3 separate regions of the Homo sapiens genome follow, and regions 2 and 3 are each linked to region 1. Evidence: fine-mapped expression QTL. A gene starts in region 1. Each other region holds a variant in brackets. All regions are shown on one strand. Distances are between the middles of the regions.

The links. PIP is the estimated chance that this variant, and not a neighbour inherited with it, causes the effect.
Region 2: its variant is fine-mapped to the expression of FBXO2 in blood mononuclear cells (TOPMed, PIP above 0.99). The same link has a PIP of 0.9 or more in NK cells and whole blood.
Region 3: its variant is fine-mapped to the expression of FBXO2 in aorta (GTEx, PIP 0.98).

What each region holds. Positions count from the first base shown.
Region 1 is chr1:11,650,202-11,658,201 of GRCh38, forward strand. FBXO2 (F-box protein 2) reads right to left here and starts at 4,228. Exons shown (of 6, transcript NM_012168.6): 1 at 4,118-4,228; 2 at 265-633. The coding sequence starts at 4,139. FBXO44 (F-box protein 44) reads left to right here and starts at 4,676. Exons shown (of 6, transcript NM_033182.7): 1 at 4,676-4,751; 2 at 5,605-5,899. The coding sequence starts at 5,635. RefSeq lists enhancers at 1-239, 240-947, 7,776-8,000 and silencers at 4,178-4,317, 4,558-4,787, 4,838-4,907.
Region 2 is chr1:11,714,320-11,724,568 of GRCh38, forward strand. DRAXIN (dorsal inhibitory axon guidance protein) reads left to right here. Exons shown (of 7, transcript NM_198545.4): 6 at 800-889; 7 at 5,265-10,249. The coding sequence ends at 5,377. Among named protein-coding and RNA genes, the nearest start is that of AGTRAP, 17 kb to the right of the region's middle. RefSeq lists an enhancer at 5,425-5,494. The variant T/C (reference allele first, on the strand shown) is at 5,123.
Region 3 is chr1:11,726,397-11,736,096 of GRCh38, forward strand. No RefSeq gene overlaps it. Among named protein-coding and RNA genes, the nearest start is that of AGTRAP, 4.9 kb to the right of the region's middle. RefSeq lists enhancers at 1-803, 5,696-5,785. The variant CTTTT/C (reference allele first, on the strand shown) is at 5,454.

The DNA of each region.
Region 1 (8,000 bases):
GTGGACCAGTGGGCAGTTTCTAAATCTGCCTCCCGGGAGGTATGTCCCCCATCCCGCCCTGCCCCAGCTGGCTGAGGGTGGGAGGACCCGGGAGACCCCAGGGCACAGGTGGCCAGAGAGCTACAGTAATAGACAGCCTTGGGGCTACCCAGTGCTGGCACTGAGCCAGGCGCTTAATCCCATTTCTCCCTCAAAGCCAGGCGGCGCCGTTTCGGCCCATTTCGCAGCAGGGGAAGCTGAGCTCGCCCAGCGAGGGCCTCTCACCTTCCCCACACGGGTTACGCAGAAGGTTGCGGCGCCGCTTGCTCAGGAAGTAGAACTGCTGCCAGTGGTCGCGCTCCTCCTCCACGCCGCCCTCGGGCACCAGCCCCTCCTGCTGGCACTTGAGCAGCCACAGCGGGGCGCCGTCCACCAGCTCCTTCCAGCGCAGGCACACCAGGCGGCAGGCCTGCACCAGCTCGGCGGCCGGCAGTGCGGCCAGCACGCGCAGCAGCAGCGGCTCGGGCAGCTCGTCCAGGTACGCGGCGGCGGCCGCCGCCTCCTCCTCCTGCTGGTCCTCCGGCCGCTCCTCCTCAGCACTCGCCTCCTCTGGCTGCTCCTCCGGGCTTGCCTCCTCGGGCTGGCCCACGCTCTCTGCAGGCAGGGATGGGTGGGAGGCTGTGATTCCTCCACCCTGTACTCCTCCAGGCCCCAGGACTGCAATGTGCCCGTAACCTCCCCCACCCACCGTGGGACAATCCACAGCTGGGGCCGGAGATTCTGTGACTCCATACTGGTGCCCAAGGAGGAGGGCCACAAGGCCACAGACCAACCCCGGATCAGCCCCTAAGTCCAAAGAGGTGCCTCAGAGGCCTATTTCCTCTGCTGGACCAGTAAACCCCACGCCTGGGCAGATGGCAACAAGGATCATATTATTATTATTAATGGCATCCATCTATAGCACTGCACAGTGCTTCACACAGGAACTTCTTTCTTCCTCCCAACCACCCTCTGAGATTCCTGCTCCCCTCACCTCCTCAGGAAGCCTTCCGGGACTTCCCCCTATGACACCCTCTCACAGCCCTTCCTAGCTTTTGTCCTGGGGTGTGATCCTGTGATAAACGCCTGTCTCTGGACCATACGGAGCCTTATAAGGGCCAGAACATGGTCTGGAAAACACACAGCTTCATGCCCTGTGCCTGGCATCTGGCACTTTCCTGGTCTGTTGTCAGGAACTCATGTTTTGGGGGCACTCATCAAGTGTTAGGCACCGTCCAAAGCATTTCAACTTCATTTACTCTTTAAATCCTCATACCACTTCTTTGAGGTTGCTCTTATTGCTGTTCTTATTGCATTGATGAGGAAACTGAGGCACAGAGAGGTGAAACGGCCCAGGATCACACGGCTAATCAGTGGTTGGAGCCTGGATTTGAACCCAGACAGCCTGGCTCCAGAGCCATCTTAAACCACCACAGCCTCCACAGAATAATTCACTGAATTAGTAGGCAGTGTTAGGATTTTGACTTTTTTTTTTTTTTTGATATGGAGTCTCGCTTGCTCTGTCACTGCTCAATCTCAGCTCACTGCAACCTCTGCCTCCCGGGTAGCTGGAAGCTGAGAAGCGATTCTTCTGCCTCAGCCTCCCAAGTACTGGGATGACAGGCATGTGCCACCACGCCTGGCTAATTTTTGTATTTTTAGTAGAGACTGGTTTCACCATGTTGGCATGGCTGGTCTCAAACTCCTGACCTCAGGTGATCCACCCGCCTCAGCCTCCCAAAGTGCTGGGATTAAAGGCGTCAGCCACCACGCCCGGCTGACTTTTCTTTTTAAAGATAGGGTCTCACTCTGTTGCTCAGGCTGACCTCCAACTCCTGGACTCAAGCAATCTTCCTGCCTCGGCCTCCTAAAGTTCTGGGATTACAGTCATGCTCCACTACACCCAGGCCAGGATTTTGACTTTGCAGGTGCAAATGCTCAGGCTCAGGGATGAAGTGACTTGTTGAAGGACACACTGCCAGTATTTAGGGAAGGGGACATGGGACCTGGGGCCTTCAGGGGCTGGAGAACAGAGCCTGGAGACCCAGCTGTCCCCAGCTATTGTGTGACTTGGGGATGAGGAGGGACTTATTAAAAGAAACTCTATCAAGCAAGGAGATGACATAGGGGCTTGGGGAAGGAAACTTTCTCCACCTCCTTTTCCCATCCGTGGCCCTCAGTTTTCTCATCTATAAAATGGGGGTAATCATTGTGCCAGGCCATACAAACAGGACAGACGTCCAAATCCCCTGAGGAAGGGGACAAGGGCATTCTGAATTGTAAGGAGGCAGGCAGATGTCACCGCGGCAGCCGGACTGTCTCTTGCATCCCAGTCGGCTTCAGCTGGGCCATCACAGCCTTGAGTAAGTGGACACCGAGTGCCCAAGATGCCTGGACGAGGGAGAGCCAGTGAGGAGGAGACGGGGCCACTCTGGGTGATCAGGAAGACTACAGCTCTCAGACCTACGGATGGGGAGTTCCCATGGGCTAGGCCCTGGAGAGCCAAGGCGGTGGTGGGAACAGGCCAGGCACTGGGGAAGGGGACAGGTGGCAGGACCCAGACCCAAGTCTCCAGGCCCACCAGCCCCTAACCTCCTCATATGCAGCCTCTCCTCCCTGCCCAACCCACAGTCAGGCCCTTGAGAGCTTTCACAGAGCCCAGAGCACACAGTGAGTCCTCAGTCAATCTTACTGAGTGAACCTCATTGAACACAGCACTTCTCCTTCCTTATTAACATTTTTTTGGCCACATCTTTATGATGTGGGGATTTACACCGGCCCCTTTGGCAAAGAGGAAACTGAGGCCAAAAAAGGCTTAACAGCTTCTCCCAGACCACATCGCAGAACGGCAGGAAGACAGAGGAAAATGCCAGGCCCTGAAGTCACATCACCTGCCCAGGCAGATGCCCACAGCTCTCTGGGGAGCTAGGCCCAGTGTCCTCACCTCTCCAGCCCTCCCTCCGGCCCTGGCCCCATCGGACACCTGATGCTCCCCGAAAGGTGCACCTCACCCAGTCCCCTCTTCTGGCCCCGGGGCCTGGCACTCGAGGCCCCAGATCCAATTACAGCTCCCCCCACCCTCTCTCTTACACACACAACTCCCCACATTGTTGCCGGCGGAAAGTTATCTGGCCCCTGGAAGCTGCCTGCCTGCGAGGCTGACTCACTCACCTGGAGTGGGCCCCAGAGTCCAGGGTATAGCTGATCCCTGGGAAAAAGCAGGAGCCAGTTCTGGAGCCCTACAGAGGGTGTGGCCAGAAGGCCGTGGATTGGGAGCAAGGGCTGCGAGAGCTGGAATTTTCAGGGCTGGAGGCGGGGGAATGGGGGGTGAGGGGGGGCCTGAGCTTTCATCAGTCTGTTTGCCACCGCCTAACCCAAGCAATGCCCATCCCCAGCTGGACCTGATGAGGAAAGAGTGAGGGCTGTCTGCAGGCAGGTCTTGTTTCCATCCTGACTCAGCAGGCAACCCCTGCAGGCCCCGCAGGGAGTTGGAGGGATGGGGGTGAGGGGTCTTGGGTGCCAGAGAGGATGACTGGGCAGCCTGGGAAGGCCCTGAGCACCAGCCAAAGCTGCCCCCAACGCTCCCTCACCGCTAGTCGGGTCCCCACTGGGCATCTCACCACCCCGGGGAGGGGCAGCCCCTCCAGACAAGGGAGCTCAGGAGGAAGGCAGGAATAGGTGAGGCCAGGCCTGGGACCCCAAGGAACCCACGGGGATTCAGACGGCCCAAGGCCCAGAGCTGGAAGAGCTGATGAAAGAAAAGGCTCGCAGCCTCCCTCCCAGACGCATCCCAGGCCCCCGCCAGACAGACCCTCAGGAAGCTGGGAGGCGGGAATGTGGGGGTCCTCTGGTGCTACTTCCTGGCTAAATGGGACCCAGGAGTTCTCTCTCCTTGCCAGTCGCCTCTCAAGGCCTCCCGCCAGACCAAGATAGCAGAGAGACGTGCTCTTTGGAGACCGCCTCTAGGGCTTCGCTGGCGTGAAAGTTTGCCGCGCCAGGTCTCCGGGTCCCCTCGCTCTCTGACGCCCCTCTGTGCAGCGCTCGCCCGCCGACCCCATCTCCCCTCCCCGCCGCAGCGAGCGGTCCAGGCGTCGGCTACCTGGGTCACCGTCTCCGTCCATCGCTGCGGAGGGCGGTCGCGAGAGGAGGAGCCGGAGCGCTGCGGGCTGCGCGAGTCCCGGGGCGGCGAGTCCCGGCGCTGTCCGCGTCTGTGTCGGTCCCGGCGACCGCGCCTCTTAAAGGCCCCCGACCCGACCCGCCCCGCCCCGCCTCTGGCCCCGCGCCCGGCCGCCCCGCAGTCCCAGCAGTCTGCTCGAGGCCCGGGGCTGCGGGTTCCTCAGCGGACCGAGGAGGCTGGGAAAGGTCAGGAGTCGTTTTTTTTCCAACTGGGGAGGGGTCCGATTTGGGGCATCTCGCAGCTCGCTCCTGGGGGACTGCTGGGAGGAGGCGGCTAGGGGAGGCACGGAGAGGCTGGGTCAGGCCGAGGGTGAGGGGCGGGTGGCCCAGGCGGAGTCGGAGTATAGGAGGTGCCTTCCGCCCCACCCCCCACACCAGGTAATTTTCCTACGACGCGGTGGGGGTGCGTCCCTGGCCCAGCGCTGCGCGGGGCGGGGCGCGGGGCGCGGGGGCGGGGCCTGGCGGGCCGGGGCGGGGCCTCGCTTTCCAGGCAAGCGCAGGTCCAGGCGGTGCAGCTTGGGCGGCCCAACGGATCGTGCCGCGGCGGCCGAGCGCAGGTGACCGGCAGGAGGGGGCGCGGGGGGCGCTGGGGAGGGGGCGCGGCTGGGCGGGGGCTGCCGGGAAGGCTCCTGGGTTCCGGGTCGCGCCGCAGTTGCCGAGGGAGGCCTGGCACCGACCAGGCCCAGGCCGCCGAGCTTGCCCGGGCTGCGCTGCGCGGCTGCGAACGGGGGCTGGGGTCGCCATCGATGTACAGGGGTCCGAGCCCAGACTTTGGGGGGCATTTTAAGGCACAGCGTGGGAAGGGGAGGCTGCAGGCGCGCTGGCGGACTTGGGGCTGGCGGAGCCCAGCCGCGGGGCTGGGGGTGGGAGTGGGGGTGGGGAGATAGGAAGGGCCCTTCCCTGTCGCCCACCCTCTTGCCACTCCCACCTAGGCAGGAGATCATGTCCTCTGAGATCTTGAGAAGGTGGCTGGAGCCCTTTGGACCTCCGCGGGAGGCAGTGATAATTAGCCTCCTCCTCCCATCATGTTCTGAGGATGGGAGAGAGGATGGTGACGGCACCGGAGGCCTGGGGTGCTCTGCCCGGCTGCGCATTATATCCCCATTAAAGACTGGCCTACTGAAAAAGGCTGGCCCTGGAATCAAAGAAGATCCGGGCTTCTTCCCCCTCTGCCCTTATTTTTGACCTTGGGCAGTGCCTTCCACCTCTATTGTGAGAGGCCAGAGAAAAAAATCAGAGCTCACCTTTTATTAAAGTACCTGATGTGTCCCAAGCTCCTTGGACCGCCCCAGTGACCCCTGGAGGTAAGGCATCCATTTACAGAGAAGGAAACAGGCTGGGAGAGGCACCATGCTCTCCCGAGATAAATGGCAGAGCAGGGATGAGGCCTGCAGCATAGCTTTTCAACAGCTACAGGAGGGTGTCCAGAAGCCACAAGCCATGGCTGTGGGGAACATCAACGAGCTGCCCGAGAACATCCTGCTGGAGCTGTTCACGCACGTGCCCGCCCGCCAGCTGCTGCTGAACTGCCGCCTGGTCTGCAGCCTCTGGCGGGACCTCATCGACCTCGTGACCCTCTGGAAACGCAAGTGCCTGCGAGAGGGCTTCATCACTGAGGACTGGGACCAGCCCGTGGCCGACTGGAAGATCTTCTACTTCTTACGGAGCCTGCACAGGAACCTCCTGCACAACCCGTGCGCTGAAGGTGGGGTACAGGCCGGGTCTGGCATGCCTCCAGTACACAGTCATGACACCAGGAACATGTATTGAGCACTTAGTATGAGCCGGGTACTTTGGATGGTTTAACACCTTTACTTCTCTCACAGTAACCCAAAGAGGTAGCTACTGTTAGTGCACACATTTTTCAGATGGGCAAACTGAGGCCAAGAGTGGTGTTTCTTATTCTTACTATACTCTTTTTTTTTTTTTTTTTTTTTTGAGACGGAGTTTCACTCTGTCACCCAGGCTGGAGTACAGTGACACAATCTTGGCTCACTGTAACCTCCACCTCCCAAGTTCAGCCTCCCAAGTAGCTGGGATTACAGGCATGTGCCACCACACCTGGCTAATTTTTTTTTTTTTTTTAGATGGAGTCTCGCTCTGTTGCCCAAGCTGGAGTGCAATGGTGCGATCTCGGCTCACTGCAACCTCCACCTCCTGGGTTCAAGCGATTCTCCTGCCTCAGCCTCCCGAGTAGCTGGGATTACCGGTGCCCGCCACCACGCCCAGCTAATTTTTTGTATTTTTAATAGAGACACAGTTTCACCATGTTGGCCAGGCTGGTCTCAAACTCCTGGCCTCAGGTGATCTGCCCGCCTTGGCCTCCCAAAGTGCTGGGATTACACGCATGAGCCACCGCGCCCGGCCTCTTATTCTGCTCTTAAGATTATTTCCCCAGTGACCTTTCCTAGGCGAGGGAATGTTGGCCAACTGAGACTAATTCTGCTCAAGACACAAGGCCAGGAAGTCAGAGCCATATTTTGTTGGCCTAGTTTCTAGGCTCCAGGGTTGGGCCTACTGACATGGTCCCAGAAGGCCAAAGGGGTTTTGCTTGTGGAAGAATGGGAGATCCAGTCGTCTTCTCAGTATGTTACAACAACAGGTAAAGCAAGGCTTCCACTGATCCTTGCTTGCTGTGTTGTTGGGTTGACACTGGGATGGCATGGGAACCTCATTTTCCACAACATGACCAAATTCTGGAGCAAAATGATAATAAAACCACTCCTCCAAGCTGTGCATGAGCCAAATCTGGCTGAGGCATTAATAATTGTTCTAATAATTGTTTTTACATTTTTAAAGTGTTATAAAAAGAAGAAGAAGAAACAACAAAAAACTATACAATAGAGATAGTTTATGGCCCACAATTCCTACAATATTTTCGCACTTTGCCAAAAAAGCTTCCCAGCCCCTATTCTTAACTCCAGTTTACAGAGGAGACAACTGAGGCTCAGAGAGGAAAAGCAACTGGCCTGAGGTCACACAGCTGAGTACTGGTAGAGCTGGGACTAGACCCAGGTCTGTCTGGCCCACATCAGAGCTTTGTCCATCACAGAAGGCAGCTGGGCTGGGTGCAGTGGCTCACACCTGTAATCCCAGCACTTTGGGAGGCCAAGGTGGGTGGATCATCTGAGGTCAGGAGATCGAGACCAGCTTGGCCAACATGGCGAAACACCATCTCTACAAAAAAATACAAACATTAACCAGGTGTGGTGGCATGCACCTGTAATCCCAGCTACTCGGGAGGCTGAAGCAGGAGAATCACTGGAACCCAGGAGGCAGAGGTTACAGTGAGCTGAGATCGAGCCATTGCACTCCAGCCTGGGTGACGAGCGAAACCCTATCTCAAAAAACAAAAACAAAAAAAAAGATTTGTGTTTTTAAGGGGTTATAGGAAAAGAAACAACAACAAAAAAACTATACAATAGAGATAGTATGTGGGCCACAAGTCCTAAAACATTTTGGCACTTTGCCAAAAATGCTTCTCAGCCCCTATTCTTACTCCAGTTTACAGAGGAGACGACCAAGGGTCAGAGAGGAAAAGCAACTGGTCCAAGGTCAGACAACCGAGTACTGGTAGAGCTGGGACTAGACCCAGGTCTGTCTGGCCCACATCAGAGCGTTCTCCATCACAGAAGAGGTCTGGTCATTTCCATCACCATGTGTCTCAGGGCCCCCAGGGAAGTCACCTCCCTGTGCCTGCAACACAGGAAGCACCTAATACGCGGTGGGCACTGTGATCTGCAGCGTCCCACAGCACAGGGCTTGAGGGCAGCCGCCAAGATGCAGGCAGAGGAGTGGGGAGGAAG
Region 2 (10,249 bases), 65 kb after region 1:
CGGATGGGCGCTCCAGTACAGAGGTGGCCTGTTAGACGAGGCCCGTGCTGAGCAGAAATGGCTGGGCCCCAGAACCCCCATGCCCGTCATTGGCAGGGGCTGCTGGGAACAGCCTGCCATGGGCCAAGGTGGCCCTGAAGCTGTACCAGCTGGAGGCCGCCAGCAAGTGCTTTCCCCAAGAGAGATCGGAGCGGCACACCTCCACGGCACCACGATTGTTAGATCAGTGACCAGAATATTCTACAAAACAGCAACCAAACCAGCAATTAGCATTGTATAAGGCAAACCACCAGCTCCCTGACAGGCTGCTTCATTCCCAAACCATTGTTTTCACCCTGGGCACAAAGAAAAGGCCCGCATTTGGGCCGACTGGACAGTCGCTCTGGGAGCCGGCTCCATGGCAGGTGCCCAGGACTTCAGTTTCCCCATCTGTCAAAAGAGGACATTGGTTTTGGGGATCCTGAGGCCCCTCCCAGCTCTGAGCTGACTCCACACCTGGCAGCCCCCAGCTGTTCTACTGGCTCTGTCTGGGAGGAGACCTCACACCACCTTCGCTCTTCCCATGGTCAATCAGTACCCCATCTGAGGCAGCTGGGGTCTCTGCCACCGACCCTTGGGGGCCTCGGCCATGACATCTCCCTGTGGTTCCACTCAGGAGCCTTGCACACCAGATGGCCCACCCCGCCAGGGCGCGGCCTGCCACAGAGATGATGGATCTCTTGTCCAGTGGGACCGAGTGCAGGGCTGCGGGGAGGGGCGGCTCAGCTTGGCTGACTGCGTGTGCTCTCTGTGTTGGCAGGGACTTGCTGCGACCTGCGGGAGCATCTCTGCACACCCCACAACCGAGGCCTCAACAACAAATGCTTCGATGACTGCATGTGTGTGGAAGGTGGGTCCAGACTCCTTTGCGGGGGGCTACCCATGCTCTGAGAACCACAAAGCCTCCCTTTCTCGAAGCGGCTTCTGCACCGAGTGGGGAACAAGCTTTCCTGGCAGAGGGTGGATCATGGGCCTGCGGCGGGGGTGTAGGTGGGAGAATCCCTCGGGAGCCGAAGACGTGAGCAAGAACAGCTTTATCAGTGCCTTCCCAATCTGTGAACTCATTTAGTCCTGATTCTTGGCATCATTTCTGAGATTTGCTTTTCTCAACTTTTGAAATACAAGCTGGCACAATCTCCCACTATCTGGAAGAGGGAGAAGGGAGGAGACAGGAGCACATCTCTTTAAATTAGATCCAGCCTCAGAAGGCTGCCGCTTTCACACCAGAATTCTATCCCAGAGGAGGCATTGAAGTGTGATAATGGGGTGGGGGTGGGTTTCCCAGCATGTCCCAGGGAAGGATGCACTTGCCCAGCTGCCTCTTCAACTCCTCCGTGCCCCCACCTCGCCTAAGTGTGCTGGGCTCTGTGCTGAGCACTTTTCTACTGAAATCCCCATGACCACCCCTAGAAAGGAGCTATGATGATCCGCACTGTACAAATAAGCCAACTGGGGCACAGAAAGCTTAATGATGCCCAAACTTACACAGCCAGGAAAGTGGGGGGAATAGTTTCAGGTTTTTGTTTTGTTTTGACAGGTTTTACTCTGTCACCCAGGCTGGAGTGCAGCAGTGCAGTTTTGGCTCACTGCAACCTCTGCTTCCCAGGCTTAGGTGATCCTCCCATCCCAGCCCTGCAGGTAGCTCTGACTACAGGCGCATGCCACCAGCCCAGCTAATTTTTGTATTTCTGGTAGAGGCAGAGTTTTGCCATGTTCCCTAGGCTGGTTTCAAACTCCTGACCTCAAGCGATCCACCTGTCTTGGCCTCCCAAAGTTCTGGGATTACAGGCATGAGCCACCACACCCAGCCAGTTTCAATTTTGTATTCTGCAAAGTTTCAAATATATACTAAAGTAGTTAGAATAGTCTAATGAGCGCCCATTTCTCATCACTCTGCTTCAATACCAACTCACGGCCAATCTGTGTCTATCATCTCTCACACACTTTCCTTATTCCGACATGATTTCTAAGCAACTCCTGGGAGCTTACAGGTATTTCACCTGTGAATATTTTAGTGTGTACCTCTGAAAGACAAGTACTCTTTTAAAAACAAAATGCCAAACATGAACGATAATTAATCAGTTCCATCCAATATCAAATCAGCATTCACACATCTCCTGGATGGGGGAATTGGGGCTCAGCCCCTCTGTGGACCTGAGATACATGCCCCGTTTTGCTCATATTAGCCTCAGAGAGTTATCTACCATGATCGTGCCACTGCACTCCGGCCTGGATGATGGAGCGAGACCCTGTCTTAAAAATGATGATAATACATCTTTTTCTTCCCAATTTTTAAAATTGTGGACTTTTAAATTTAATTTAATTATTTTTTGAGACAGGGTTTCACTCTGTCACCCAGGCTGGAGTGCAGTGGCGCAATCCCAGCTCTCTGTAGCTTTAACTCCCGGGCTCAAGGGATCCTCCCGCCTCGGCAATAAAGCTATGTAGTTCTGATTATTCACTCATCTAATCAGTTAAATATTTAGGGAGCACCTACTGCGTATCAGACATTGCTCTGGACACTGGGGGGTTCAGTAGTGAAAAGAACCAGCAAGTTCTGTGCCCATGAATTACATTCTAGTGATATGAGCAGACAACAATCAAATACATAGATAGTATGTCTTTAGAAAATAATAAGGGCTATGGCCGAGCATGGTGGCTCATGCCTGTAATCCTAGCACTTTGGGAGGCCGAGGCAGGAGGATCACTTGAGGTCAGGAGTGAGACCAGCCTGGCCAACATGGTGAAACCCTGTCTCTACTAAAAATACAAAAATTAGATGGGCATGGTGGCACTTGCCTGTAATTCCAGCTACTCGGGAGCCTGAGGCATGAGAATCGCTTGAACCCGGGAGGCAGAGATTGCAGTGAGCCGAGATCCTGCCATTGCACTCCAGCCTGGGTGACTGAGTGAGACTCTGTCTCAAAAAGAAAAAAAAAGTAAGTAATAAGGGCTATAAAGATAATAATATGATAATGAGTCCTACAGTTGTTTTAGAAAGGGTAGACAGAAGTGGGCATTGGAGGCCAGGGGAGTGGTTCATGCCTGTAATCTCAGCACTTTGGGAGGCCAAGGCGGGCAGATCATGAGGTCAGGAGTTTGAGACCAGCCTGACCAACATGGTGAAATCCCATCTCTACTAAAAATACAAAAATTAGCCGGGTGTGGTGACGCGCACCTGTAATCCCAGCTACTCAGGAGGCTGAGGCAGGAGAATCTCTTGAAACCAGGAGGCGGAGGTTGCAGTGAGCTGAGATCGTGCCTCTGCACTCCAGCCTGGGCAACAGAGAGAGACTCCGTCTCAAAAAAAAAAAAAGAAAGGGTAGACAGAAGTGGGCATTGGAGGCCAGGCGGGGTGGTTCATGCCTGTAATCCCAGCATTTTGGGAGGCCAAGGCAGGTGGATCCTTGAGCCCGGAGTTGGAGACCAGCCTTGGCAAGGTAGAGAGACACTGTCTCTACCAAAAATACAAAAAAAAAAAAAAAAATTAGCCGGGTGTGGTGGCGCACACCCATAGTACCAGCTACTTGGGAGGCTGAAGTGGGGAGGATCACTTGAGCCCAGGAGGCAGAGATTGCAGTGAGCCGAGATCTTGCCATGCCACTGCACTCCAGTCCAGGCAACAGAGCAAGACCCTGTCTCAAAAAAAAAAAAAAAAAGGGAGGCCCGGCACGGTGGCTCATGCCTGTAATCCCATCACTTTGGGAGGCGGAGGTGGGCAGATCACTTGAGGCCAGGAGTTCAAGACCAGCCTGGCCAACATGGTGAAACCCCATCTCTGCTAAAAAAAAAAAAAAAAAATACAAAATTAGCTGGGTGTGGTGGCGCATGCCTGTAATCCCAGCTACTCGAGAGGCTGAGGCAGGAGAATCACTTGAACCCAGGAGGCAGAGGTTTCATAAGCCAAGATGGTGCCGCTGCACTCCAGCCTGGGTGACAAGAGCAAAACTCCATCTCAAAAAAAAAAAAAAAAAAAGCAATGGCTCTCCATAGGATGTTTTACAGGGAAGGGCAGAATTTGAGCCACTTAAAAAAAAATTTAATAACCTTTTTCCTTTCCAATTTTCAAGATTATAGACTTTTTAATTGAATTTATCTGTGTATTTTATTTTTTAATTTTTTTGAGACAGAGTCTCACTCTGTTACCCAGGCTGAACTACAGTGGTGCAACCAAGGCGCACTGCAGCCTGGAACTCCTGGGCTCAAAGGATCCTCTCATGTTAGCCCCTCCTTCCTATAGTTGGGACTACAGGTGTATGCCACAATGCCTGGCTAATTTTTACATTTTTTGTAGAGATAGGGTCTCCCTATGTTGCTTAGGCTGGTCTGGAACTACTGGGCTCAAGCGATCCTCCCACCTCAGCCTCTCAAAGTGCTGGGATTACGGGTGTGAGCCACCGTACCCTGTGGACTTTATTTTTAGAGCAGTTTTCTAGAAAAATTTCACAGAATGTGGTTCTCATATACCTGCTTTGCCCCTGCATGCAGTTTCTCCTATTAATAACATCTTGCAATCATGTGGTAGATTTGTTTGTTTGTTTGTTTGTTTGTTTGTTTTCTGAGAGGGAGTCTAGCTCTGTCGCCCCAGCTGGAGTGCAGTGGCATGATCTTGGCTCACTGCAAGCTCCACCTCCCGGGTTCATGTGATTCTCCTGCCTCAGCCTCCCAAGTAACGGGGATTACAGGCACCCACCACCATGCCCGGGTAGTTTTTGTATTTTTTTAAGTAGAGACGGGGTTTCACCATGTTGGCCAGGCTGGTCTCAAACTCCTGACCTCAAGTGATCCACCTGCCTCGGCCTTACAAAGCGCTGGGATTATAGGCGTGAGCCACCGTGCCCGGCCTCTCTTGGTACATTTGTTGCTTGACAAACCAATAGTGATGTATTATTATTACTAACTGAAGTCAACGTAAGTTATAGTTCACTGTGCGGTGCATTCTGTGGGTTTTGACAAATGCATGCCATGTCCCACCATTACGTGTCACACAGAATATGTTCACCGCCCCGACCGCCCTGAGTCTTCTCTGTTCTCCTTCCGTGTTCATTCCTCCCCTCTTCCGGGTTCGTGTCTTTTAAGCTCA[T/C]TGGGGCTGCCGTGAGGAAGCTGGGTTGTAGGGCAGAATAATGAAGGCAGGAGGGAGCTGGCTGGCCCCGAGCGTGCAGGGGAAGGAAGGGGAGGGCACGGGCCCTTCGCGCCTCTGACCCCCCTTGCCTCCACTCGCCCAGGGCTGCGCTGCTATGCCAAATTCCACCGGAACCGCAGGGTTACACGGAGGAAAGGGCGCTGTGTGGAGCCCGAGACGGCCAACGGCGACCAGGGATCCTTCATCAACGTCTAGCGGCCCCGCGGGACTGGGGACTGAGCCCAGGAGGTTTGCACAAGCCGGGCGATTTGTTTGTAACTAGCAGTGGGAGATCAAGTTGGGGAACAGATGGCTGAGGCTGCAGACTCAGGCCCAGGACACTCAACCCCAGGAGGGGAGCCGCTCGGCGAATGAGCTGGGTGGGTGCCCAGGAGCCGGCCCGCAGCACCTGCACACACGAAGTCCGGACCCACGCAGCCTCCATCCCGCGTGTCTTGCTCTCCGCGATGGCAATGCCGAGAGTGCCCTCTACTGTCCGACTCCAGCACTGCAACAGCTTCAAGTTCAAAACCAAGAGGCGTTTTTGAGAGTGGAAAAGAAATTTAAACTTCCCGAAAGAAGGTCCACCATCAGGAGATGAATATGGAACATCTCCTATGTACCAGGCACTGTGCTAAGTGCTGGAATACATTATCTCATTGAATTATCACAACGACCTTTTCAAGTAGGCATTATCACCATGCGACAGGTTGAGGACCGTGAGGCACGCTGGAGTTATTTGACTCGACTTGCCCAGGGTCCCAGGTCAGTGCTCCTCAAACCTGAACATGCTAAGAGTCACCTGGAGGTCCAGTTAAAAATGTACATCTGGCCGGGCGCGGCGGCTCACGCTTGTAATCCCAGCACTTTGGGAGGCCAAGGCGGGTGGCTCACCTGAGGTCAGGAGTTCGAGACCAGCCTGGCCAACATGGGGAAACCCCGTCTCTATTAAAAATACAAAAATTAGGCCAGGCGCGGTGGTGCACACCTGTAATCCCAGCTACTCGGAGGCTGAGGCACCAGAATCGCTTGAACTTGGGAGGCAGAGGTTGCAGTGAGCAGAGATCGTGCCACTGCACTCCAGCCTGGGGGACAAGAGTGAAACTCCATCTCAAAAAAAAAAAAAAAAAAAAGCACATCTGACTCAGTGGGCTCTGTGCTCTAACAAGCTCCCAGGGAACGCGAGGCTGCTGGCCCAGGGACCCACTGAGAGGTCCTGGGAAGTACATGGCAGAGCAAGGACATGAACCTGGGCCAAGGCTGTCCAGCTCCAAGGCCCACGTTCTTGCTGCTCCACAGCCAAGAATTTCTTCCAGATTCTCTAAGGCTTTTGGCAAGAGAGGCTCACACCCTGGTATTCCCTTCCTCTGTGGCTGGAATAACTTGACTGTTCTCTGCCTTCCCTGGATAAAGGTGTATCATGTTTAAAAACAAAACAAAATACAACTTAAGCACATACTTGCTTGCAGGAATAAGTTGGGCAGGTTGATCCCTGTGGTCTAGTAGCTGATATCCTGGGATAAGAAGTGTTTGGGGAAAAGAATCATGTTGGCCTTTATGTCCCTGTGGTCCTGATCATCCAGTCCTGGACAGGCACTTTACAGTTTTCTGGAGCACTTCCCCCCCAGGGGTTCTGATGCAAGCATGGAATCCAAAAAAACCCCACACATATTGCCCATGTTTACCCACTTTGCATACTGTTTAGTGATTTCCAGGACCACAAAACCATCCCTGGAACCCCACCCCACATTTTTGCAGCAGAGCCCACTGGGAAGTTGAGGCTCACCTGAAATTGAGGTGCTATCTGAAGCTAACTGCCCCTAACAGGCCAGACTCACAATGCCCACCCAGGACATCTGTCCCAGCAGATCTGGCTTCAGGGGTCACTTCAGGAGAACCATTTAAATCCCCCCACTTGGCATCTCACTCCTGGCCAACCCTCTGTTCCAGGGCGAACCAGGTTGCAAATGACAAAAGACTTTCCTGGCCAAATTCCTCACTGGCCTGGATCACGCCCATAAGATGCCAGAGATGTTTACTGCGTTGGAAAAATCAGTCGGGGTCAGGGGTCAGGCACCAAGGAAAGCAGGCAGATCTAGAAGAAATTAAATATGCTTGTTCTCTCCCTATCCAAGTTTGATGGGCATGGGAACCTTGTGGGGAGGGAGCAGGGAGGGCAGGGGAACTGGGAGATCAAAGCAGGCTAGCTGAAAGGCAGATATGGCTAGACACAATGGCTCATGCCTGTAATCCCAGCACTTTGGGAGGCTGAGGTGGGCGGACCACCTCAGGTCAGGAGTTTGAGACCAGCCTGGCCAACATGGCAAAACCCGGTCTCTACCAAATATACAAAAATTAAGGCTGGGCACGAGGGCTCATGTCTGACATCCCAGCACTCTGGGAGGCCGAGGTAGGCAGATCACTTGAAGTAAGGCGTTCGAGAACAGCCTGACCAACATGGTGAAACCCCATCTCTACTAAAAATACAAAAATTAGCCAGGCATGGTGGCAGGTGCCTGTAATCCCAGCTACTCAGGAGGCTCAGGCGGGAGAATCACTTGAACCCAGGAGGCGGAGGTTGCGGTGAGCCAAGATCACGCCATTGCACTCCAGCCTGGGCGACAGAGTGAGACTCCAAAAATATAAAACACTTAAAAATGTAAAAAGGCAGATCTGCCAGCAGCTTCGTACTTGAGACCAGACAACCCACACATGCTGTGTGTGCCTCACATTAAGTGGTGACTCGGGACTGTGCTGGCTCTGTGGGGCTAGAACCCTAAGGAGTACCGCCGGAAGAAAGCCCAGCATTACTATGGCTGGGGGACAGCTGTTAGATGGTCCTAGGACATCAGCCATGGAGAACACAGAGGGTCAGGACAAAGCTAAAATGCCCATAGAACTGCCACTGGTTGCCAGGGTAGTTCCATGGTTGGAAATTCAAGGCCCGTCTCTTTGCCCTAGCTATCTCTATTTGACATTTCCAAAGAGGGATGGGTGGATGGAACCTCTTAACTCCAGAGCTGGGAATCCCAAAGCCCTCTCAAGTGTCTAACCAACCTCTCTGCCAGGAAGTTCTTCCTTAGGTCTATCTTAAATTTATTTTGCTCATACAGAAGCCAGTTTCCTCTAATCCAGGGTTTAGCAAACTTTTACTGTGAGGAGCCAAATAAACATTTTAGGATTTGCAAGCCATCTGATCTCCACCAGCTACTCAGCTCTGCCGTAGCTCGAAGCAGCCACAGAGAGTGTGTAAATGAATTCATGGCTATGCTCCAGGAAAACTATTTCTGGACACACATGTGAATTCTGTATACTTTTCACATGTCACAAAATATTATTCTCTCTTTCCTTTTTTTTTTTTTTGGAGATGGAGTTTTGCTCTGCTGCCCAGGCTGGAATGCAGTGGCTCAGTCTCAGCTCACTGCAACCTCTTCATCCCAGGTTCAAGCAATTCTCCTGCCTCAGCCTCCCAAGTAGCTGTGACTACAGGCATGTGCCACCACACCTGGTTAATTTTTGTATTTTTAGTAGAGATAAGGTTTTACCATGTTGGCCAGGCTGGTCTCAAACTTCTGACCTCAGGTGATCCGCCCGCCTCAGCCTCCCAAAATGCTGGGATTACAGGTGTGAGCCACCGCACCTGGCCATAAAATATTATTAGTTTAATTTTCTAAAACCATTTAAAAGTGCAAAAACTGCTCTTTGCTTGCCAACTGCGCAAAACCAGGCAGTGGGGCAGATTTGGCCTGAGGGTCACGGTTTGCCAACCCCTGCTCAAGCCTGCTCACTCTCAACGCTGGCTGCACGTTGCAATAATCCAGGAACATTCACAGGCCTGGGGCCCACCCACAAAGCTTCTGTTTTGTTTGGTCTGGGCTTCATAGTTTTTCTCCCAGGTAACTTCAGGTGCAGCTGGGGCGGAGAGTCTCTGCTCTCCCCTTCCATCTGTAGCAGTGTGGCTGGTGTTAAATCCACCTATTCCACCTCTCACAGCTTTGGCAACCTTAGGAAAGTTTCTTAAGGTCTCTGTGCCTTGATTTTTTCATCTGTAAAATGGGAATAATAACTCTCCCTTCATAGGGTTGTTGTGAGTAGTGAATGCATACTTCTTTTTTTTTTTTTTTCTTTTGAGACAGAGTTTCACTCTTGTTGCCCAGGCTGGAGTGCAGTGGCACGATCTCGGCTCACTGCGACCTCTGCCTCCTGGGTACAAGTGATTCTCCCGCCTCAGCCTCTCGCGTACCTGGGATTATAGGCAAGCATCACCACGCCCGGTTACTGTTTGTATTTTTAGTAGAGATGGGGTTTCACCATGTTGGCCAGGCTGGTCTCAAACTCCTGACCTCAGGTGATCCCCCCGTCTCAGCCTCCCAAAGTGCTGGGATTACAGGCATGAGCCAGCATGCCTGGCCTGTGAACGCAGAATTCTTATAAGGTGTTTAGAACAGTGCCTAGCACCTAATAAACCTCCAGTGTTAGCTAATTTGTTATTCTAGGAGAATTTTAGATGTCGGTTCTTTGACAATGACCCATCACATACTCTGAGATCATTTCTAAGTCACCATTCAAGCTCCTTCCCCAAAGTGTGTTCCATAGAACACTGGGACCATGAGATGCTCTATTAGAAAGGGTCAGGGTACGGTTCCATGGTCAGAGAGGTTTGGAAAACTGTTCTGGCCTCAGCCCTTGGCAGCATGTGCAGATTCCAGGCACCGAGGCAGGGCTGGAGGAGTAAGTGGCTTTGCAATAAAATGGGTGCTGGAGTCTAAAATGATACCCTGGGTGGAGTGGGGGAGCTGAGCAGGAGGCCAGGTGGCAACCAGTAGCTGCTGGGCCCGTGGCCTGAACCCTCCTGCACTCCTCCAGCTGGAGTCTCACCGCGGATCCCAGGAATACCTGCTGTTCCCACAGGGCTGCCTTTCCGTAGTTTGTCTGGAGACACCAAGAGTGGTTTCCATGCCTGCTGGGAATAGGCTGAGCATGCAATGACATGAGGGCCAAGGCTTGTGGGAAAATGACAGCTTCACAGCCCCTTGAGGAGTGACCAAGCCACAAAGTAAATCCTAAAGCCACAACCCCTTCTACCAC
Region 3 (9,700 bases), 77 kb after region 1:
GTCCCAGATTTTTATCTCCCTACCCATTTTAGGGTTGGGGCAGCTGAGGTCCGAAAGAGATTCTGAGGTGGGTTGCAGCAGGCCGGTCCCCAGCAGCTTCCTTCCGAGCCAAGGTGGCCGAGTGCAGAGAAGAGCAGAAGCGGGACTCCTGCAAGATAAGAAAGGACAAGGCAGCTCAACAGAAGCCAGGGCTGGGGCAGGGTCAGTTGCCATCTTGGGAAAGGGCATGAACTGGTGAGGGGGTGGCCTGGCTTGGCACCAGGAAGGACATCTCTTATCGTGGTGGCAGTTCCAGCCAGTGCCGCCCAGCTCTGCTGACCAGGGCTTCCTCGGGCAGGCTGTTATGTCTCCCAGTGACCTTGATCCTAAAGCCAAGGTGGGGCCCAGACACCCCTGGGGGCCGTGGTGACCACAGAGATGGGGCGCCCTGAGAGCCTGGTGTCCGTATCTGCAGAGACGTCTCTGCCTAGCCAGGACAGGGAAAATCAGGCTTCCCAAATCCAGGGTTTCCTAAAACATGGGTCCTCGGACCCCCAGCATCAGAATCCTGTGGACGGCAAGCCCAGGTTTCTGAGCCCCACCTGGGCCTCTGACTCAGAATTCCAGGCATGGGCTTGGGAATCTGCACAACTGAAACTCAAGTCTGAGAGCTGCTGCACCAAATCTTCTGAGAACTCACAGTCCTCCCCACACAGCCCCAGGTGGCTGGAGGAGCTCCCACGGGGGATGGTTCTGAGGAGCTGAGCCCAGAAGGCCTGTACCCCTCCAAGAGACTTTGCAAGTCATACCCTCTCTGCCCACTACTCAACTCTGCCATCGTCGTATGAAAGCAGCCATGGATCACACAGAAACAGATGCATGCAAATGAGTGAGCACAGCAGCGTTCCAATAAAACTTTATTTACACAAAAGGGTAGCGGGCCAGATTTGGTCCAGGAGCTGTAGCTTGCTGACCCCAGTCTGTACTACTGACCCCTGGGTCAAAGGTTACAGAAAGGCATGCTGGCCATCTAAAAGCCAAACCCCTCTGTCCTGGGATGTCCACTGGATCCCATTTCTACTAATAAAGGTCAGAACAGTGCTGAGATAAGGGGTTAGGGCAGTCAAGCCCAAGGCCACAGGATGTCAGCTCTCAGTGCCAGCAGCCTGGGTGCAGCCCTTGGTGGAGGGCAGATGGCTGCACTGGGGTGGATCAGTCAGGGTTCTCCAGAGAAACAGAAACAATTGGATATTATTTATATATCTTAAAATATCTATGTATTTATATATCTCATGTGTGTGTGTGTGTGTGTGTGTATACACACAGTCATGTACCATATAAACATTTCAGTCAATGACAGACCACACATACAACAGTGGTCTCATAAGATTGTTTTGTTTTGTTTTTGAGACAGAATCTGGCTTTACGTCTAGGTTGCGCACAGTCATGACACTATGTCTAGTGGCACAATCATGGTTCATTGCAGCCTCAAACTCCTGGGCTCAAATGATCCTCCTGCCTCGGCCTCCGAAGTTTTGTATTATTAATGCAATAATAATTATTGTATTATAAATACAGTAATTAGCCTGGTTAATTATTGTATTTTTTGTAGAGACGGGGTCTCGCTATGTTGCCCAGGCTGGTCTCAAACTCCTGGCCTCAGTGATCCTCTGCCTCAGTCTCCCAAAGTGCTGGGATTACAGGCATGAGCCACCATGCCTGTAATGAGCCACCATGCCATAAGATTCTAATACCATACTTTTACTGTACCTTTTCTATGTCTAGATATGTTTAGATACACAAATACTCATCATTGTGTCACAGTTGTCTGCAGTATTCAGTACAGTAACATACTGTGCAAGTCTGTGGCCCAGGAGCAACAGGCTATCTCAGAGAGCCTAGGTGTGTGGGAGGCTTCACCATCTAGGTTTGTGTGAGTACACACTATGATGTTTGCAGTGTGTAATGCTATGATGTTTGCCCATCAATGAAATTGTCTAATGACACATTTCTCAGAATGTATTCCTGCTGTTAAGCAATGCATGACTGTATATAAAGAGATTTATTTTATGGAATTGGCTCCCATGATTGTAGGGGCTGGCAAGTCTGTAATTAGTAGGACAGGCAGGCAAGCCAGAAACTCAGGCAGGAGTTAATGCTGCAGTCTTGAGGCTGAATTTCTTCTCCCAAGACCTCAGTTTTTGTTCTTAAGGCCTTCAACTGATAGGATGAGGCCCACCACATTCTCAGGGGTACCCTCCTTTCCTTCAAGCCAACTGACTGCAGATGCCCTCACACACACCTACATTCTTTTTTGACTGAAACCTTGGATACTAGAACTTGCCCAAGCTGACACACGAAATTGACCATCATGGAGCTTTCTGGAGCTCAGCTCCCCAGCTCAGATCCCGGTGACTGGACGTGCGACAGAGTTGACCGTGGCGGGTCATGAAGCTCTGGGCTTCCTCACTCTGTTTGGCAGCTTGAGCCTCAGTGTAGCGGTGGCCAACCCTGGTCATGAACATGGACACACATGCTGTGGTGGGCCCAGACCAGTGTCTACCCAGTGTTAGGACATGAAATTGCAATTTGGGGTGGGATGGGGTGGGGAGGGATCGGGTGAGGAGCGATATGAATGGATGCCTGACTGGGTCAGCAAATGACAAAACAGAGCTGCCCCTGTCCCTTCATCACACCTCCCCCAACACACGATGGCATATCCTGAAACTCACACGTTTGCACTGGGGAACCACAGTCAGGAGCCTGGGCTCTGTCCCTGCTGGCGATTAGGCACTGCGGCAAGGGCACAATTGGACGGCGCTATATGCTGTGGTCTTGAACTGGCACTGTGCATCCCGACCTTGACCTGTGTCAGCGCCTGGCACAGAGCAGAATACCTGTGTACAGAGGGAACACCTTCCTCCAGACACAGCCCTGGCCTCCATTGACGGCGTGAGGCGCCCCTCCTCTTGCGTAACTGGGAACTGTTAGACCTTCTTTTGCCAAGCATGAAAATGGAAGCACAAAGGAATTAAGGCCACTTGCCCAAAGTGGTGCTGGAGAGGCCTCCCCCAGGTCTGCCTGACTCCAAAACCTGATCATGTCCATGACCCCGTGTTGCCTCTCAAATACCTGAAGTTTACTGAGCACCTACTAGGAGCTGATCACTGATCTCACCCCTACTCCCACCTCACAGGCACTGTGCCACTCATTTAGGACCCATCGAGGCCGCTGTCAGGCAGGGGGCTGCCAGGACCGAAGTTGGATTCACCTTCAGGCCGGCTTCCCAGAGAGGAAGAGGGCTGGATTCCTTCCAGAGAGCCAGTGGAAGCACCCTCCCCTCCCCCACCCACTTCCTCGTTCTTCTCTTCTCTCTCCCTGTGGCCACTGGCCCCCTGCAAGGAAGATGAGACCTCGAAGAGCCTGCAGCAGAGTCAGACGTGAAAGCCACCGCCAGTGAGGCCTGAAAGCAGTGAAAGCAAACACCAAAGATAAACCCCATGGCAGATAGGCGTCTCGGGCCGTCGGGCTCAGTGACCACAACAGGCCTCATGTGTGTATCTGAGCCATCACTCAGATTCAGCCAGAGCCCTCCAACGCCTCCCTTGGAATTCCAGCAGCATCCACGTGGAAAAATGGGAGAACGAAGAGAGGAGGAGGAAGCAGCCTGAAGTTATGACACAACCAGGACAGGCCATGGGAGGCGGGAGGCAAGCAGCACACATTGAAACTCGCTCCGTGCAGGGCCTGGGCCAGGGGCTGGAGTTGATCTCTGAACAAGATGCTCAGAGTTGAGGAAAGCACGTGAGCATGCACATGCACACACACACACGCACCCACACATACATGCACACGCACACACACGCACCCGCACATGCAGACACCCACACCCACACACATGCACACCCATGCACATGCCCATGCACACCTACACACATGCACACACACACACCACCGCACATGCACACCCATGCACATGCCCATGCACACCTACACACATGCACACACACACACACCTGCACATGTGCGTGCACACGCACACAATAAAATAAGAGGATTGCTGCTGTATGCAGCAGGGGTTGAAGGAAATACCATAGGTCAGAATTTGAGAGTAGCTGAAGTGCCTCTCCTTCCTCTTGGGCAATAGCCTCTTACTTCCGCTTGTGTTCTGGGTGGTTTCTAACACAGCCACAGCTTCCTGGACTCCAACAGGGCACAGGCAATTTCCTTTTCTGCCTTTTCTACAATCACCAAAGGTTCCATAGGGCATTCTGATGGGTTCTCTGAGCACAAGGGTCTCTGGAGGGACAGGGCACTATTGCCACATGTCTGGGAAGGCCTGGCGGGGATCATTCTTAACCGGCAGTAATTTTCATAGGACCCTGATGAGGTGGCAGAGCAGCCGGAACATCAGGCATGATTTCCTGTGTTTTAAAGCTCAAGGAGTATTTATGGAGGCTGGCTGGAGTCCATAAGTGTCAGCAAGGGATGCCGCTGTAAGATTGAATTCTGTGCCATCGGGACAAATCGTTCAGAGTCAGCCCTCATTAGTTTTAAGTAGTCACAGAAACAAATGTCCCCTCTGGCCGGGCACGGTGGCTCACGCTTGTAATCCCAGCACCTTGGGAGGCCAAGGCAGGTGGATCATGAGGTCAGGAGTTTGAGACCAGCCTGGCCAACACAGTAAAACCCCGTCTCTACTAAAAATACAAAAATTAGCCGGGTGTGGTGGCACATGGCTGTAGTCCCAGCTACTTGGGAGGTTGAGGCAGGAGAATTGCTTGAACCCGGCAGGTGCAGGCTGCAGCGAGCCAAGATCGCCCCACTGCACACTAGCCCGGGCGACAGTGTGAGAGTTCATCTCAAGAAAAAAAAAAAAAGCAAAATTAGCTGGGCATGGTGGTGTGAGCCTGTAATACCAGCTACTTGGGAGGCTGAGATGGGAGGATCACTTGAGCCCAGGAGTTGGAGGCTGCAGTGAGCCAAGGTTGCACCACTGTACTCCAGTCTGGGTGACAGAGCACCTAGAGGGCCCTGTCTCAAAAAAAGAAAATAAAATGCATTTAATACACCTAACCTACTGAACATCATAGCTTAGTCTAGCCTACTTTAAACATGCTCAGAACACTTACATTAGCCTACAGTTGTGCAAAATCATGAAAAACAAGCCTATTTCATAATAAAGTGCTGAAAACCCTATGGAATTTATTGAACACTATACTGCAAGTGAAAAACAGAACGGTTATACTGGGGACTGGAAATATGGTTTCTACTGAACGCAGATCGCTTTCGCACTGTTGGAAAGTAGACAAATCATGTCAGACCATTGTAAGTTGGGGAGTGTCTGTACTCACTCAATACATGACCCCAAGCCTTGTGGAATGCCACGTGGGGGTCTATTATGTCCTTCCATAGCCAAGAATAGGTCGTGGCAGGAACTCCGGTTCCTTTGAGGATACCGACAGTTTCACTTT[CTTTT/C]GTTTCTCCGTGCTTCCCACCTCCCCGCATCCCCCCAACCCCACCAGCCTGCCAAGCCCGCCCAGCCAGCTGGGTGTTCTCGTGCTCTCCTCCCTCCGCCTCTGGCCCCAGCTGGTGGAGATGAATACAGTGTCAGTGTCTGAGCCACAGGGACGTTCCACAGGCCCAGCCTTGTGCTGCCTTCCGATCCTTGTCTTCTCCTACTTGCTTCACTCTATCCTTCTCATTTCAGCCCTGGCCGGATTTTTCTGCTGTGTGGTTACACGTCAGGGTCCTGGAGCCAGGCTTCCTGGGTCCCACCGCAGTTCCAGCAGCAATTAGTGCTGTGCCTGCAGCAAGCGGCTTCACTTCTGTTGATTTCAGTTGCCTAAGTGTAAACAGGAATAAGAACAGCGCGTGCCATAGTTCTGTTGTGAGCATTTACTATGAAGAACTTTCTTTTTTTTTTTTTTTTTTTTTGAGACAGGGTCTCGCTCCGTCTCTCAGTCTCTCAGGCTAGAGTGCAATGGCAGGATCTCGGCTCACTGCAATCTCTACCTCCTGGGTTCAAGCGATTCTCATGCCTCAGCCTCCCGAGTAGCTGGGATTATAGGCATGTGCCATCATGCCCGGCTAATTTTTGTATTTTTAATAGAGACAGGGTTTCACCATGTTGGCCAGGCCGTTCTCGAACTCCTGACCTCGGGTGTTCCACCCGCCTTGGCCTCCCAAAGTGCTGGGATTATAGATGTGAGCCACCGTGCCTGGCCCACTATGAAGCCCTTTCACACTGTCTGCCACACGACAACTACTGTTGGGGCTCAGAAAATGTCACCCCAATATCTGGTGCTTTGGCATGCTAAGTACTATGAACTACAGAAGACTGGAGGCCTCAAAAGCAAGGTCTCTGTGACGCCCTCCTGACCTCCTGTCTCCAGCCCCTCCTTCTCCCGTGAGGCAGTCACAGAACAAGAATTCCTCCTTTGGCAGGGGATGAGGTGACTCAAGTCTGTAATCCCAGCACTTTGGGAGGCCGAGGCAGGTGGATCGCTTGAGCCCAGGAGTTTGAGACCGGCCTGGGCAACATGGCAAGCCCTGTCTCTATAAAAAAAAATACAAAAATTAGCCAGTCATGGTGGTAGGTGCTTCTAATCCCAGCTATTCAGGAGGCTGAAGTGGGAGGATCACCTGAGCCCAGGAGGTTGAGGCTGCAGTGAGCCATGATCACACCATTGCACTCCAGCCTGGGTAACAGAGCAAGACCTTGTCTCAAGAAAAAAAAAAAAAAAAATCCTCCTTCTCCAAGGTGGGTCACAGAAACTAGAACCCGTGTCTCCAAAGTAGCCATAAAACCTAGAAAGGTGGCTCTCTCCCTTCTCTCTTTAAAGACCTCATTACAGAGGGGTTCTACCTCATACCCAGGAGGAAGGAATGCTGCATGGAGAGCCCAAGAAGAATCTGGACAAGACTTGTTCATTTTCTTTTTATCCAATTGCATTGCTACAGGGCTGTTCATTCTTCCTTGAAACTAAGCACAAAAATGGACAGATTTCCCAGGGCCTTTGAGTCTTCATCTCTGAAGCCTCCCATGTCACATGAAGCTTTGCTTAACTAAACTTGGTATGCTTTTCTCTTGTTAAGCAGTCTTTTTTTACAGGAGTGTCAGCTGTGACCTTTATGATGGGTGAGGAAAGGTATCACACCCTTCCGCCCCTACAGGGTCCTGTAAATGTCAGTTTAGTAAATGTCAGCTCTAATCCTAGGAGTTGTTTTGCGGTTTTTTTGTTTTTTTTTTGACATGGAATCTCACTCTGTTGCCCAGGCTAGAGTGCAGTGGCAGGATCTCGGCTCACTCCAACCTCCACCTCCCAGGTTCAAGCAATTCTCCTGCCTCAGCCTCCCAAGTAGCTGGGACCACAGGTGCACACCCCCATGCCTGGCTAATTTTTGTATTTTTAGTAGAGACGGGGTTTCATCATGTTGGCCAAAATGATCTCGAACTCCTGACCTCAAGTGATCCACCGGCCTCAGCCTCCCAAAGTGTTAGGATTACAGGCTTGAGCCACCGTGCCCGGCCTGTTTTTCATTTTCTCCTTACAAAGTGATCACAACTTTATTATATACCTAAAGGCTTGGATTAAATCCCTCTAGAATCTGGAGTGTATGGGAAATATTTTTTAGAAGGAAATTGATCAGGCTGCGCACTGTGGCTCACGCCTGAAATCCCAGCACTTTGGGAGGCCGAGGCGGGCAGATCACCTGAGGTCAGGAGTTTGAGACCAGCCTGGCCAACGTGGCAAAACCCTATCGCTACTAAAAATACAAAAATCAGCCGGGCATGTTGGCACCCACCTGTAGTCTCAGCCACTCAGGAGGCTGAGGCAGGAGAATCACTTAAACCCGGGAGACGGAGGTTGCAGTGAGCTGAGATCGCGCCACTGCACTCCAGCCTGGGTGACAGAGCCAGACTCCATCTCAAAAAAAAAAAAGATAATAATAACATAATATTCTAATATTGACTGCTTACTGAGAAATTACTCTCTTCTAAGTACTTTACTAATAACAATAATTAATTACCAATAATGAACTAATAATAATAATAGCAACCAGTCCTAAATCAAACTGGATGTAGCCATTTGGCTGGTCTCTAATTTACCCCTAGACTGGGGGGATCTGTGCCTCCTAAGAGGGCATTAAGTTAGGCCTATGGGCCCTGCAGCCCTGCAAAACTCTCCTCATCCATCCAGAGAAACCCTTTCTTTGCATCTGGAGAGACTATGGGTCTTGGTATTATCTAAGGACTCACCCAGGCAGTTTTGTAGGTTCCCACCTGGTTTCCCCCACCCTAGGAATAAGACCAAGTGCTCAGGTGTACCCTGAAGGTTTCCATACCTAGGTGACACTAAACAAAAGCTGGTGTTCTCTAAAGGAAAGTTGATGTTAGGAAGGGACCTGGAGGTAGAGCGGATTAATGTTCTTGTTGCGGTGGGGGGATGTGGTGGTCAACAATCTTTAAGGGAGGTGCCAGGTGAGGCAGGAGACAGCCCTTTCTTTCCTCATGTACAATTGGGGGAGGAATTTCTTATGGTTTTTCAGCTAGAGTTTTCTAAAACTTTTGGTATGCTGATTAAAGTGGGCTCCCACCAATTTGGCTCCTCAGGTGTTGCTTTTTGTTTGTTTGTTTTTCCCAGACAAGGTCTCACCCTGTCGTCCAGGCTGGAGTGTAGTGGCGTGATCTCGGCTCACTGCAGCCTCCCCGGTTCAAGCAATTCTCGTGCCTCAGCCTCCTGAGTAGCTGGGACTGCAGGTGCACACCACCATGCCCTGCTAATTTTGGTATTTTTAGTAGAGACGGGGTTTCACCATGTTGGCCAGGCTGGTCTCGAACTACTGAGTTCAGGTGATCCACCCTCCTTGGCCTCCCAAAGTGCTGGGATAACAGGGGTGAGCCACTGCGCCCAGCCTCATCTTGTGTTGGTAATAACAATAGCTTGTGTGTCCTGCCCATTTACTAAGTGCCGGGCACTGTTCTCTCCTAGAACAAACCGTAGTTAGACTCCTCTGAGTCCTCATCTTGACTAGGCCTCGGCCTTGGACCTCTGTGTCTTCCTGTCCTTGCTGGGCCTGAGCCTGCATAATAAACCAGTTTCAGCAAGAGTCCTGCTAAGTTAGCAAGAACTCCCCCATCCTTGATGTCTCCTCCTAGGAATCTTCCATTCCTGCTCCCTCATTCTGCTCTGGCTATAAATCCCTCCTTGGTCCTTGTTGTATTCGGTGTTGAGCCCAAACTCTCACTCCATGGCAATAACCCTACAGCAAGTCTTGAACAGTACTGGTTTAACAACAGTCCCAATAACGTTTTCTTTAACAACAGCAGTTAGCTCATTTAATCCTCATAAGGATCATATGAGGTAGGTAGCCTAAATAGCCCATTTACACAGGGAAGTGGGAAGGAGAGAGGGTGCCCCCAAGGATGAGACACAAGCTGTTGCCACATCAGCACTTTGCGCCTGGACGGTCCCCCAGTTGTCCTGGCTGCAGGCAGTCCGAACAGTCCGCTTCCTGGAATATTAGCCAGGCAGGATACGCCCTGGGCGACAGAAACTCCAACTTTCGCCAGCGGCCCCCAAGTACTGCCTGGGCGGTGGCGGGAGTCTGGAGCTTGGCTGAAGGCGCGAGCTGCCGACGCCGTCTCCTAGCAACCAAGCGGCGGTCACGTGACCCGCTCCAGCCCGTTTCACGTGGTCTTGAGCTGCGCTGGGGT